Linked DNA regions of Homo sapiens. The protein of the gene in region 1 purifies or fractionates together with the protein of each later gene. This does not show direct contact. Each region holds a gene or a part of one and is shown in the gene's direction. Other genes may lie near its edges.

Region 1 (8,091 bases):
GTGGTAAGGATCAAAGTGGAATACTGTGTGTGAAAACTCTTTGGATACTGTAGCAAGTGCTGTCATATAATTGTTACTAAGTGTTGCTTTGTTAAAGCAGATATTTTGATATGAGGTTGACTTACATTTTTGTTTTGTTTTGTAAAAATTGTGATTTATCATTACTTATTTCTGATGTTGTGTGTAGACAACCAGGAGTAGGGTTTTTTTTCTTTGTAAGGTCACTGGTTCTATATAAAAAATAGCATCAGTAAAAAGTAATTTAATATTTTTAGAGTGCATAGCATCTTTGAATTTTTGGCCTTTGCCTTTTTGAGAATGGATGTTAAGATAGTCCTCTTCAGTTTTGTTTTTGTTTTTGTTTTTTTTAACTCTTTTTGGAGACAGAGTCCTGCTCTCTCGCCCAGGCTGGAGTGCAGTAGTACGATCTTGGCTCACTGCAACCTCCACCTCCTGGGTTCAAGCGATTCTTCTGCTTCAGCCTCTGGAGTAACTGGGTCTACAGGCATGTGCCACCATGCCCGGCTAAGTTTTGTATTTTTAGTAGAGACAGGGTTTCACCACATTGGCCAGGCTGGTCTCGAACTCCTGAACTCAAGTGCTCCATCTGCCTCGGCCTCCCAAAGTGCTGGGATTATAGTTGTGAGCCACCGCACCTGGCCTTTTTTACTTTAAAAAAAATTTTTTTGTGTGAGACAGAGTCTCACTCTGTTGCCCAGGCTGGTGTGCAGTGGTACGGTCTTGGCTCACTGCAACCTGTGCCTCCTGGATTCAAATGATTCTTGTGCCTCAGCCTCACGAGTAGCTGGGATTACAGGTTCACACCCTCACAACTGGCTAACTTTTTTTTTTTTTCCTTACTTTTTACTAAGTAATACCATGTTGGCCAGGCTGGTCTAAAACTCCTGGCCTCAGGTGAGCCACTCGCCTCAGCCTCCCAAAGTGCTGGGATTACAGGTGTGAGCCACTACGCTGGCCTTAACTTTTTTTTTTTACATTCATGATATATATTCAGTAATAATATCTAACTTCCTTATTATGAACAGTTGGGGGAAAAAAGGAAGGAGAAAGACGAAAGAGGAAGGAGGAGGTAGACAAAGAACAAACCATTAGCAGTCACTCTTCAGTATTTTTGTGATTTAGGTATTATTTGCTTCATGAAATAGATGTGATCTCTGGGAAGGTGATAGCAGAATCCTCCTGATTTTTCTGATTTTTCAGATTTTGTCAAGTGCATGCTCCTGTGTAGTAGTTAAGAGAAAGATGAAGAAATGCAAAGGAAAATACATGCGCTAATATACACAAACAGCAACTTTGGTGGGTTATACTTCCCTCTTGTGGCTTCTTCAGATATTACCATTCTAATTATTATTTTTTTTTTTTTGAGACGGAGTCCAGCTCAGCTGCCCAGGCTGGAATGCAGTGGTGCGATCTTGGCTCACTGCAACCACCGTCTCCCAGGTTCAAGTGATTCTCCCATCTCAGCCTCCTGAGTAGCTGGGATTACAGGCACCCTCCATCATGGCTGACTAATTTTTGTATTTTAGTAGAGACAGGGTTTTACCATATTGGCCAGGCTGGTCTTGAACTCCTCACCTCAGGTGATCTGATTGCCTTGGCCTCCCAAAGTGCTAGGATTACAGGCGTGAGCCACCGCGCCCAGCCTTCCATTCTAATTTTATTTAGACACTTCCTTAAAACAGAGTAAAGGAAAGGATCATGACAACTACTTCTATTCTTCAATGGTAAATTTTTCATAAATATTTGAGTTAGTCAACTAATATTGTTAATAAGATCCTGTGTCACTTGATAATGATAGCTTAATACCGGCTTTTAAAGAAGTCATGTAAATTAGCTTGTGCTGCCTATTATTATGTCTAAGAAAATGGTTTTATGGCTGGGCAAGGTGGTTCACACCTGTAATCCCAGCAACTTGAGTGGCTGAGGCAGATGGATCACCTGAGGTCAGGAGTTTGAGACCAGTCTGGCCAACATGGGGAAATCTCATCTCTACTAAAAATACAAAAATTAGCTGGGCATGGTGGTATGTGCCTGTAATCCCAGTTACTAGGGAGGCTGATGCAGGAGAATTGCTTGAACCCGGGAGGCGGAGGTTGTAGTGAGCTGAGATCATACCATTGCACAACAGCCTGGGCGACAGAGTGATACTCTATCTCAGAAAAGAAAAGAAAAGAAAAGAAAATAGTTTCATTTCACATAAATCTTTACATGAATTTATCACAACTGTTAAGTTTAACTTTCCATGTGCTGTTTTTTCAGAGATGTTCTTAAGATTATCAATGAAACAATTCAGAAAAATAATTTTTGCTTAGTGTTTAGTATAGTATACTGTGTATAAATCCTTGATTGCAGATAGTTTTAGTAGGCCATCCAGGCCTTTCCTTGGCTTCAGAAAAATAAATAGCTATGCTCCTGAAAAGGAATAGAAAGTTCCTAAGGCTTGAGATGCTACCACTTCTGTCATTAGTTCCATTTCAAAAACCTCAACTGAAAACTAAGAGGCAAAAAAGTGTTTATTCACATGACCGCCTGAGGACAAACAGGAGGAAGTTCGTGTGTAAAACTTCAGATGGCTGTGATGTCACTCAGATGTGTACCAATGCAGCCATGGTAAGTAGCTTGGCTTTATGCTTTTTGTTTTTTCCCCAGGAGATTAACGAGACCAGAAGGAAGCATGAAACGCGCTTGGTAGAGGTGGATTCTGGGCGTCAAATTGAGTATGAGTACAAGCTGGCGCAAGCCCTTCATGAGATGAGAGAGCAACATGATGCCCAAGTGAGGCTGTATAAGGAGGAGCTGGAGCAGACTTACCATGCCAAAGTGAGCTCTCTTCAGAAGATTCTTTTGAACACTTAAAATCATTACTTCACAATTCCCATGATGAACATGGCTTTATGTTTATTTTGTTCTAGTTTTTAAAAATGATTCCCCTAGTCTCCATGAAATATATAGAAAATTGATTTTTTCAAAAAAGTGCAGTTTTCTATAAACTAAATGTTATTAAAAATTACTAGAAGAATGTAGGGTTGTTGCAATTTTATTAGAGGTTAGGTTTTGTCTTTTTGTCCCATTGATCATTCGTACTATGCCATAGTAGTTGAACCCAAACCATGTGAAATAACTTTCTTCCAATAACAAGTACTGATCATGCTGTCCTACATAAACATCCATTTAGTAATGAATGAATGTCAGACTGCATTAGATCTCACTTTCATGTCATCATTGTGCATAGATTGTGACTACCACACTTCCGGCTTTTTTGCATAAGGGCCAAATGGAAAGTCTCTGCTATTTCTTCTTCTGTCACTATTATTCACTTAAAAAAATATTGTAGAAACTTCCCACTTATATTAGCTGACCTTACAAGAATTCATAAAAATCACCAACTAGTACAGGCTTTCCCTGGTAAATGATTTTGCCTTGTGTTTTAAATGTTACATGATTTGATTAAAAAGACTTTTTTGTGGTTGACTTAGAATATTAGAGTCACAGAGTTATTGAAAATTTTCATTGCATGGCTTTAAACTGTTCATGTTGCTTTTTATCTATTGTATGAAGTAGCAGTTAGTGAAAGTGAAAGATCTTATTATAAGCAGTAACTTCAGTTGTATAACATTTATCTAATATCACACATTGAGCTATACAGTGAAGGAGCTAAAGTAAGGATCCGTCACAGACTGTGGCCTCACAGGGAGCCAGGGAGGAGACACAGGAGCATGTCCCTGAGACACACATACACAATAGTGTTATGGGATTTGTATTTTACTCAAGGAGTTTTTTTTGCTTCTGAAAGGAAGTGTTTCTATCTGGTTTGAACGAATCTATAAACTAGTATTTTCTGCTTGTTGGTTTACATTCTGTATTGGATTTGGTGGGTTAGGGATATGTGATGTTTCTTTTCTTACAGACACCACCACAGTCAAGTTGCTATTGCCCAGTCTTCTTATTATCAGTGTTATCTTAGACATTAAAGGTTTAATAGATGAAATATTGAAGTAATAAGCTTTGGGTAAAGGCCTAGGTATATTAGCATTCTTAAAGCTCATTATTTAGGAAGTGACTCTAAAAGTCACACAGAATTACCATCATTCACACCATATCAGCAAACTTCATGATGCTTTTCCTGTGTTTCATCTACCAGTTACCAGCAGGACTTAGGTTTGAAATGCCTTGAGGTGAATCATGCTTCCTTTTTTGTTTCAGTTCTAGATAAGACTGACTATGCTTTGCTTCTTCTTTTAGCTTGAGAATGCCAGACTGTCATCAGAGATGAATACTTCTACTGTCAACAGTGCCAGGGAAGAACTGATGGAAAGCCGCATGAGAATTGAGAGCCTTTCATCCCAGCTTTCTAATCTACAGAAAGAGGTAAATAATCATCTTTCTGTAAGAAGTTAGACTTGAAGGCTACCTTCACCACGGGCACCTACCTGCTTTGCTTGGGCTGATGTCACTCCTCCCTCTGTTTGTTACAGAGGATGGTGTCATCCTGTGCTTTCGTCTTCACAGTACTTTTCTAGATTCGTTCATTTTGCATTGCATAAACATCCTGTGAGCAGATACTATTGTTCCTAATTAGTAGATTACACAGAGCTAAGGGACTTGCCCTTGAGGAAGGAGCCTGCTAGTTTATTCACTGTACTTACCCTAGGACCCGGATCTTCCGACCTGTCTAACAGCTTCATCTCTACAGAGTTATTCTCAACACCTTCCTTTTTTATATCATTTGAAAACCAAAATGAAGAAAAACATGCAAAAATTCTTTGTGGGTGGTGAATGCTTTGTGTTTCTAGACAAATTCTTTAGTGCTTAAAGTATATAACAATTAGGATCCAGGAAAGTAGCTTTAATTTGCATATTCCGATAAGAATTTAGTGACTCATTCATTCGTTGGTACGCCTAAGTGACAAATGGCATTATTGCCGGCTGTGTTGACTGGCTGCCTATCAGGGTGTGATGGTGTGCTTCAGGTGCTGCTTAAGCAGGCATGGACACTACTTCAGATCAGTTTTAGCCTAGGGTGATGTCAGTGTGGACACAAAGTACATATACTCCATATACTGCATTCAGAATGATTCAGCAATTAACTCGTCACCTTAATTATTTTGGAAATAACTTCCGCTTCTATTTTCCTCAAGGGAGGAAATCTTGTTTTGAATTTTCCACATGAGAATAAACTTTATTTTACTTTTTTTTTTTTTTTTTTTTTTTTCTTTTTGAGATGGAGTCTCACTCTGTCGCCCAGGCTGGAGTGCAGTGGTACGATCTCGGCTCACTGTGAGCTCCGCCTCCCGGGTTCACGCCATTCTCCTGCCTCAGCCTCCCAAGTAGCTGGGACTACAAGTGCGTGCCACCACGCCCGGCTAATTTTTGTATTTTTAGTAGAGACGGGGTTTCACCGTGTTAGCCAGGATGGTCTCGATCTCCTGACCTCATGATCCACCCGCCTCGGCTTCCCAGAGTGCTGGGATTACAGGCGTGAGCCACCGTGCCCAGCCTATTTTACTCTTGATTGGGCTTTTCTTCCTTCCTTTTTCTTTTTACCATTTTTAGTAAAATATTTTTCTAATTATAAAACTGATGACCTCTGTTGCAGGAACTTAGAAATAAAGCAGAAAATGAGTCCCATAAAATGGGGTGATATAAAATAATTTAGTTAACACAGGGGCTTTTACACTGTCTATCATGTGCTTTGTTACTTACGGCACAAATTTTTAAATTATTTTAAACCTATTTTGTGCTGATAGTGTTTTGAAGATTTTCATTTAATAGCAGAGCTGGAAGCACCTCTGAGTTCATTCCATGTAACCACAGATCTAGGTGAGTTTAATGATTTGCCCGTTGCCCAGAGGCTGCAGACTGATAAATGGGTTTCTCTACTCCTTCCCAGTTTTTCCTTTTATAACTCATTTTCTTCAAAGAAGATTTACTTTTAGAAATTTAACAGATAATCTTTTTTTCCATTGCACCATCTGTCTTAGTCCTTTTGGGCTGCTATAACAAACTACTATTGACTTGGTAGCTTATAAACAACAGATATGTCAGAAATTATTTCTCACAGTTTTGGAGGCTGGGAAGTCCAAGATCAAGGCACTGGCAGATTGGATATCTGCCTGGTGAGGGCTGTTCCCCGATTTATAGATGGTGCCTTCTTGCTGTGTCCTCACATGGTTAAAGGGTGAATGAGCACCCTTGGCCCTATATTATAAGGGCATGAATCCCATTCACTAGGGCTTTCCTCTCATGATCTAATTACCACTCAAAGGCCCTACCTCTTAATATCATCACCTTGAGGGTTAGGATTTAAACATGAAATTTGTGGGAACACAAACACACAGACTGTATCACTGTCTTTGTTTTTCTTGTTGTTTTTTTTTCTTCTGAGACAGAATTTCGTTCTTGTTGCCCAGGCTGTAGTGCAATGGCGCAATCTCGGCTCACTGCAACCTCCGCCTCCCAGGTTTAAGCAATTCCCCTGCCTTAGCTTCCCTAGTAGCTGGGATTACCGGCATGCACCACCACACCCTGCTAATTTTGTATTTTTGGTAGAGACAGGGTTTCTCCATGTTGGTCAGGCCGGTCTTGAACTCCTGACCTTAGGTGATCCGCCCGCCTCAGCCTCCCAAAGTGTTGGGATTATAGGCGTGAGCCACTGCACCTGGCCTATATCAACTGTCTTAACAGGTACTTTTCCAAAAATGGGCCTCTCTGTTCTTGTACTGAGTTGGCATTTACTACTCTTTTCCATTTACTAATAGTAAGTTGTCTACTAGTTACTGTCTATCCCTCAATTTTATTTTTTCCTACTGTATTATTATTTTTTTGGCTGCTGCCTAATCCATTTGATTTACTTAGTACAGATCTTCTCTTGAGGTTGATCTTCACTGTGCTTTGGATGAGGAGACTGTTATTAATAAGTAGTAGTGGGCTCTGAAACTTAGTAGCTATGTGTTCTAACCTAGGTTCAAGGCTGTTTCCCTGTTAATTGAATTCCCATTTTTGCAAGTTGGTTTTTTTTTTTTTTTGAGACAGAATTTTGCTTTTGTTGCCCAAGCTGGAGTGCAATGGCACTATCTCAGCTCACTGCAACTTCTGCTTCCCAGGTTCAAGTGATTCTCCTGCCTCAGCCTCCTGAGTAGCTGGGATTACAGGCACGCGCTACCACGCCCAGCTAATTCTTTGTATTTTTAGTAGAAATGGGGTGCACCATGTTAGCCAGGTTGGTTTCAAACTCCTGACTTCAGGTACTCTGCCTACCTTGGCCTCCCAAAATGGAAGGGATTACAGGCGTGAGCTGCTGCCTTAAATGCTGGGATTACAGGTGTAAGCCACTGTGCCTGGCTGCAAGTTTTTTTTGTTAACCTTATCTTAGTGGTTTTTAAGTAATGTTAGGCAGTGCACTGGGGGTTTCCAGGAGCTAACTCCTTAGCAGATAGGAGACGAGCAATCCCTTTAGCCAAAATAGTTTTTAATTTCTCTGGGGTGAATCTTTCCTCTGTTCATTATTGGTAACAGACTTTATGGTAAACAGTATATTTTGAGGAATATTTTTATTAGTTGATAAATTTTAGCCTTAGAAAAATCATCAAAAATAAAAATGTTATCTTTTTGAATATTTTCCTATTGTTTGTCTTAATAGTGTTTGTTGCTGAGTCATATCAGTTTCATCATGCTGCCTATTAGGCCATAAGAATTTCCTTTTGGTTAAATAACTCAGGTTAGTGAAGTACTTCTTAAATTTTACTTAAAATTGACATGGCTTTAAAATACTGGTTTTACAAGATATATTTAAATAATATATAGATGGTAGCAGTGTTATGTTTTGGAATTAGAAATTTTACATTGCTTATAGCATCTCTAGATTTTTGACTTGGGACCAAATGAATTGGTTGGTTAGAGTCTGCTTGCCTTAGAGAAGAGTACAGTATGGTACTTAAAAACACCTCTAACTTTTGTTTTTCTAACACCCAGATTCTGGAGACTTTGGTTGCAGCTAGACCTTAATAAACCAGTACAATTACATTACATACTATAAAATATTTAAAAACCCCAAGATCATCAGAAGTCATA
Region 2 (7,000 bases), on another chromosome or scaffold:
GTATCCCATGAGCTTATCCAAATCCCTTATGAAAATCTGGTTTATAGGCCAAGCACGGTGGCTCATGTAATCCTAGCAGTTTGGGAGGCCGGAGTGGGTGGGTTGCCTGAGCTCAGGAGTTTGAGACCAGCCTGGGCAACATGGGAAAACCCCACCTCTACTAAAAATACAAAAATTCGCTGGGTGTGGTGGTGGGCGCCTGTAGTCCCAGGTACTCGGGAGGCTGAGGCATGAGAATAACTTGAACTCAGGAGTGGAGGTTTCAGTGAGCTGAGATTGTGCCACTTCACTACAGCCTGGGCGACAGAGCGAGACTCTGTCTCAAAAAAGAAAATCTGTTTTACAACTGTTTGACCCACATGAGTTGAATAGTTACTAAGGGGCACTCTTCATTTTCCAAGATAGTGAAACTATTGATATATACCCGTCTATATATATAGCTAAGAAGCGATTTTAGAAAAAGCTTACTATTTTGATTTTTACCTTATCACAGCATGAAAGTACAAATGTCGAAATGCCCCAAAATTGTATTTTTTAAAGTTGAAAATGATCTTGAAATAATCCAGAATTGATGAATGTTGCAAATGTATAAATGCCTTATTCAGTGTTTGTATTTTCCTTATGAATTTTTTTTAGAAAGAGAAAAAAGAGAAGCCAAAATCTGATAAGACTGAAGAGATAGCAGAAGAGGAAGAAACTGTTTTCCCCAAAGCTAAACAAGTTAAAAAGAAAGCAGAGCCTTCTGAAGTTGACATGAATTCTCCTAAATCCAAAAAGGCAAAAAAGAAAGAGGAGCCATCTCAAAATGACATTTCTCCTAAAACCAAAAGTTTGAGAAAGAAAAAGGAGCCCATTGAAAAGAAAGTGGTTTCTTCTAAAACCAAAAAAGTGACAAAAAATGAGGAGCCTTCTGAGGAAGAAATAGATGCTCCTAAGCCCAAGAAGATGAAGAAAGAAAAGGAAATGAATGGAGAAACTAGAGAGAAAAGCCCCAAACTGAAGAATGGATTTCCTCATCCTGAACCGGACTGTAACCCCAGTGAAGCTGCCAGTGAAGAAAGTAACAGTGAGATAGAGCAGGTACATTTGCACTTCATTGGGTAGAAGATATCTTTCATTGTTGTTTCAGATAAATAAGTAGGTAACTGCTATATGTACTCTTTAATAGTAGGAGAAAATGTGATGTGTCAGCACCTTGTGGGTTGGGGGATACCTTAGGCTGACTGGGACTTCATCTTAAAAATTAGCATACGACAGGGCATGGTGGCTCAGCTAAGAGTACTCTGTCTTTTTTATTTTTTTATTTTTTTGAGACAGAGTCTCGCTCTGTCACCTAGGCTGGAGTACAGTGGCACGATCTCAGCTCACTGCAACCTCTGCCTCCTGGGTTCAAGTGATTCTCCTACCTTAGCCTCCTCAGTAGGTGGGATTACGGGTGTGTGCTATCACGCCTGGCTAATTTTTTGTATTTTTAGTAGAGGCGGGCTTTCACCATGTTGGCCAGGCTGGTCTCGAACTCCCAACCCCAGGTGATCTGCCCGCCTGGGCCTCCCAAAGTGTTGGGATTACAGGCATGAGCTACTGTTCCCAGCGGACTCTGTCTTTAAAAAAAAAAAAAAAAAAATTAGCATAGTGTCACAATGCCTCCTTTACAAATAAGCAGATACTGCTTAAGCTTAGGGAGAGTCTTGGTCTGCTTATTTGCAAGTCAGTCAACAGAAGAGATACAGTTTTGTAAATGGGCCCTAGTTTCCCTCTGAGGGGTTTAACCAAATAAATTATTGGAATTACTGAAAAGGTTGATTGCATAAGTCCTTTTGGTTAGGCCATTAAGTAATCATCCTGGAGTTGAACAGGATGATAAAATGTCTGTCCAGAACCTAATTCTGTTATCTTTCAGAAACTCAGTTATGAAAGAAATACGAATTGTATTAAAAAAATTTGTTTTAGACATGGGATCTCGCTGTGTGGCCCAGGCTGGTCTAGAACTTGTGGCTTCAAGCGATAATCCCGCCTAAGCCTCCCGAGTAGCTGGGATTACAGGCACAAGCCACCACACCCAGCTGAAAAATACTAATTCTAATAGATTTTCTTTTTGCTATAGATCATGGTCAACATTTGTAACTTTTTTCCTGATTATAAAAAATATGTGATCCAGAGAAAATAGAAAATGCAGACATTTTGCAAAAAGAAAGAAATGCTTCCTGGAATTTCACCATTCATTTAGTAAATATTAATACCTGTACTTTTCAAGTACAGAAGTCATCTTGTTAATTTTTGGTGTTTCCTTGTAGTACTTTTAGTATATGCATCTATTATTTTTAATCAGATTAGGATTGTACTGTGCAATCTTGTATCTTTTTTGTTTCTAGCTAAGCATTTTCCTCGTTAAGTACGCTTAATGGTTACATAATCCTTCATATAAATGTCTTGAAATCTACTTACTACTTGTATTGAGCATTCAGATATCTTACTATCAAATAATGCCACAGTGACTGCTACCTCATAAAATGTTTGTTCATTTTCTATGGATGTGTGTATACAAGAGATGCTGCTTTGGAAGAGGGCTAATGACATTTCCATCAGTATATTGTTGATTATGGTTATGGAGTAGATCTTAGTTGAGATCTAGTCACACATAATCTTAGTTGAGATCTTAGTTGAGATCTAGTTACCCAGTATATATTTGCCTCAGATTTTTCTTTTGTTAAAGTTTTATAGATTTATGACAATGTTTCCTTTTCAGATCTCGAGTTACCTATCAAGGTTTTTGTATCTTTTTGGTTGATTTTTAAAGTGATGTGTTTAGAAGAATTGCTTTAGGATAGCTTGTTTTGTCTCTTTCTCAGAAGGTTCTCTATTAATTTGTGTAGGTGATTATTGATTTCTTTCTATGGCCCTTTACTTGATAGGAAATACCTGTGGAACAAAAAGAAGGCGCTTTCTCTAATTTTCCCATATCTGAAGAAACTATTAAACTTCTCAAAGGTAATGTTCTTGGAAATATCGTATGATGTTAGAACGTATTATTTTAACAGAAGCACTCCACTATTTTTGTTAAGATGAACCAGGATGTATTCTTATTGTAGGCTGATATATGCAGTCATATAATGAAGTAGGCCTGTGTATTCAATTTAGTACTATAGTAGTGATGGTTCTTCATGCTTCTTAAACAAGTGGTTAAAGCTTTTTCAGGCCCTCTGTGGTGGCTCACACCTGTAATTGATTGAGGCCAGGAGTTTGAGATCTTCCTGGGTAACATAGTGAGAACCTGTCCCGACAAAAAGTTTAAAAATTAGCTGGGCACGTGGTAACACACATCTATAGTCCTAACTACTCCAGAGGCTGAGGAAGGAAGATCGCTTGAGCCCAGGAGTTCAAGGCTTCAGTGAACTGTGGTCACACCACTGCACGCCAGCCTGGGTGACAGAATGAAACCCTGTCTCAAAAAAAATTGTATTTAATACAGTGTGTATTCAGAAGTGTATTGACTAATGGTGCTGGTGAAATTAAGCAATTAGGTGATGCCATATTAATGTTTTATCTCTTTCACTTCTGAGGCATCTCTAGATTAATGAGCCTAATTTATAGGCATAAACCCAGAATTCATTTAATAATCTGCTTCTGAAGTAGCTGGAGTCACAGTTACTCAAGTAGGTGCTTCCTAAATCAGGAGCAGCACAGTTGGATTGCAAAGCACCAGATTTTCAGGCTTATGGATGAGACTTCAAATATTTACTATAATTGGATGCTTTAAAGTTTGTTGATATTTTTCAGTCAAGCAGATTCTTTACTATCAGAATATTTCTGAGCCAGGTATGATGGCTTGCACCTGTAATCCCAGCTGTCCATCAGGCTGAGGCAGGAGGATCACTTGAGCCCAGGAGTTCAAGGCTGCAAGTGAGTTATGATCACACCACTGTACTCCAGCATGGGCGACAAAGCAAGACCTTGTCTCTTAAAAAATATACGTATTTGAGCCTAACTTTGTAGATGTTGACCAGAAGGTAGAATTCCTTAATTCTGCAGGACCAGAAGCATGAGTAGTATACTTCAGTATGTCAGTATGGCTAATGTTTTAAGAATTGCAGTGTGAGATAACACAGTTAATTTGTTCATAGGCCGAGGAGTGACCTTCCTATTTCCTATACAAGCAAAGACATTCCATCATGTTTACAGCGGGAAGGACTTAATTGCACAGGCACGGACAGGAACTGGGAAGACATTCTCCTTTGCCATCCCTTTGATTGAGAAACTTCATGGGGAACTGCAAGACAGGAAGAGAGGCCGTGCCCCTCAGGTAACTGTCTTAAATACAAGGGCTCTCAGTCAGCATAGGAAAAACCACCACTTGGGCATTGTGTACATACCCTACTATTTTTTATTGAGTTCTTATAGTCACCCATTCTATTTACTGTGGATCTTTATGTGAAAGTAATCCAGGACAATTCTTTTATATTTAATAATTAATATATACAGATCATTCTCTGTATATTTCAATATTTTAATCTTTCCCACAGTTTTGATCATCTATATAATTAATGCTATCATATTTCCTTCAAACCATTAGATGTCCCTGGGGCTCATAGCTTTCGTCAAGTGTCTGACCATTTTTGCCTAGATGGAGAAAGCATTTTTGGTAGAAAAGCATGAATGGGCGGTGGCTCACACCTGTAATCCCAGCACTTTGGGAGCCCGAGGTGGGCGGATCACGAGGTCAGGAGATCGAGACCATCCTGGCTAACAACATGAAAGCCCATCTCTAATAAAAATACAAAAAATTAGCCGGGCGTGGTGGCGGGCGCGTGTAGTCCCAACTACTTGGGAGGCTGAGGCAGGAGAATGGCGTGAATCCAGGAGGCGGAGCTTGCAGTGAGCCGAGATGCACCACTGCACTCCAGCCTGGGCGATAGAGCAAGACTCCGTCTCAAGAAAAAAAAAAAAAAAAAAAGAAAAGCATGAATGGAAAGAAGGGCAAGTCAGAGGTGAAAACGCCAAGCCCCCATATTAGGGTGAGTCCATTGGGTTCATTTCTAGAGAACTTGACATTTAACAAACATTAACCTCATTGAAATGACTGCGAATGCCCATGTAGTCACTTTGGCTGTGGGTTCTTGCAGTTGTCTTTCTGGCCTAACCTCACTTGCTCACTGGCCTTCCAGTGTCCATGCTCCCCCTTTGTTAATTTGTTTACTGCTATATCCCTAGCACATTTTAGATGAATGTATTAGGTGTTCTTGAATCATATTAGTTTCATACCATTACCCTATTTTTGAGGACCTGTAGCAGTTCAAGCAATTCTCCTGCCTTAGCCTCCCAAGTAGCTGGGATTACAGGCGTGTACCACCATGCCTGGCTAATTTTGTATTTTTAGTAGAGATGGGGTTTCACCATGTTGGCCAGGCTGGTCTGGAACTCCTGACGTCAAGTGATCCACCCACCTCAGCCTCCCAAAGTGCTGGAATTATAGGCTTGAGCCACTGCACCTGGACTTTTTTTTTTTTTTTTTTTTGAGACAAAGTCTCGCTTTGTCGCCCAGGTTGGAGTGCGGTGGTGCAATCTTAACCTCTGCCTCGCAGGTTTAAGTGATCCTCCCGCCTCAACATCCCAAGTAGTTGGGATTACAAGTGTGAGCCACCACGCCTGGCTCATTTGTATTTTTAGTAGAGATAGACTTTCACCATGTTGGCCAGGCTGGTCTTGAACTCCTGACCACCCACCTTGGCCTCCCAAAGTGCTAGGATTATAGGCATGAGCCATTGCGCCTGGCCAGCAGTTTCATGTTTTATATATATATAGATCAAATTCATATTGCTCTAGGATTCAAAGCCCCTTACATTGTTGGCTCTACCTTACTTCTCTGATTTTGTTCTGCTTCAAATTTTCTCTACTGTAGAGGTTAAGACTATAGGTTTTGGATCCCAATTGCTTGAAGGCTCTGCTCCTTCTTAGCCTTTGGGGTTTAGTCAAGTTATTTATCCTCTAATACCTAGCTCAAAAGGTTGCAAGAATTGAATCAGAATAATATATATAAAGAATTTAGTAGAGTCTCAGATCTATTAGACAAAAATATTAGATAATGTTATCGTCATCATCAGCGTTAGACCTTGTTCAAGTCGTTCTTTTCCTGGAATGCTGTTCTTTAAGGACTAGATTAAGAAACAAATACTACACAGTAATTTGAATTCAATTATTTTTCTTTATCAGGTACTGGTTCTTGCACCTACAAGAGAGTTGGCAAATCAAGTAAGCAAAGACTTCAGTGACATCACAAAAAAGCTGTCAGTGGCTTGTTTTTATGGTGGAACTCCCTATGGAGGTCAATGTGAGTACATTCAAAAAGTGAGGGAGGTATAATGCCACCCATTGTTGACTGCTCTGATTGGATTTCTTTTCACCTTGACATCTGGCTTCTCTATATAGGATAGTCGTTTATGGGGATTTTCTTTTGCCATTGTTTAAACATGGTCAAGAACATGGTCCTGCTTGATGATAGGCAAATCCTGTATATCGTTCTTAGGACTTTTATCTATTTATATTTATCTAGGGGCTACAAAAGTAATTTATTATTGAACCCAAAAAGACAGTCCATTTGGGCTCTAGGAAATAGGAAGTCAGAATTCAAGGTTCCTCTTGTCTGTCAGGACCTTGGGTCTGTCCCTCTTTCTGCATGGTTGCTTCTTTCTTGATGTAGGCAGGCTTTCTTTCCTTGGGGCTCAAGGGCCAAATGTTAGTCTCTACTCTTATATTCCATTACTTCCCAGTTCAAGGCCTTGGAGCTTTATTATTAGAGCAGATGTATAAATTAGGAAGGGATTTAAGGAATTTAAAAAAATCATAGTTTTGGCCAGGCGCAGTGGCTCACGCCTGTAATCCCAGCACTTTGGGAGGCTGAGGCGGGCAGATCACAAGGGCAGGAGATCGAGACCATCCTGGCTAACACGGTAAAACCCCGTCTCTACTAAAAATACAAAAAATTAGCCGGGCGTGGTGGCAGGCA

The links. The genes of interacting proteins can lie anywhere in the genome.
Region 2: the proteins of LMNB1 (region 1) and DDX21 purify together in Homo sapiens (affinity purification with mass spectrometry; 2 studies listed by BioGRID and IntAct, with this or other methods). This does not show direct contact.

The regions. Positions count from the first base shown.
Region 1 is NC_000005.10:126,807,510-126,815,600, forward strand, and holds part of LMNB1 (lamin-B1), read left to right. Parts: intron 1-2,670; coding exon 2,671-2,841; intron 2,842-4,263; coding exon 4,264-4,389; intron 4,390-7,660; exon of another isoform or gene 7,661-7,738; intron 7,739-8,091. UniProt on the Homo sapiens protein: Lamins are intermediate filament proteins that assemble into a filamentous meshwork, and which constitute the major components of the nuclear lamina, a fibrous layer on the nucleoplasmic side of the inner nuclear membrane.
Region 2 is NC_000010.11:68,959,170-68,966,169, forward strand, and holds part of DDX21 (nucleolar RNA helicase 2), read left to right. Parts: intron 1-636; coding exon 637-1,080; intron 1,081-2,912; coding exon 2,913-2,988; intron 2,989-4,121; coding exon 4,122-4,300; intron 4,301-6,207; coding exon 6,208-6,325; intron 6,326-7,000.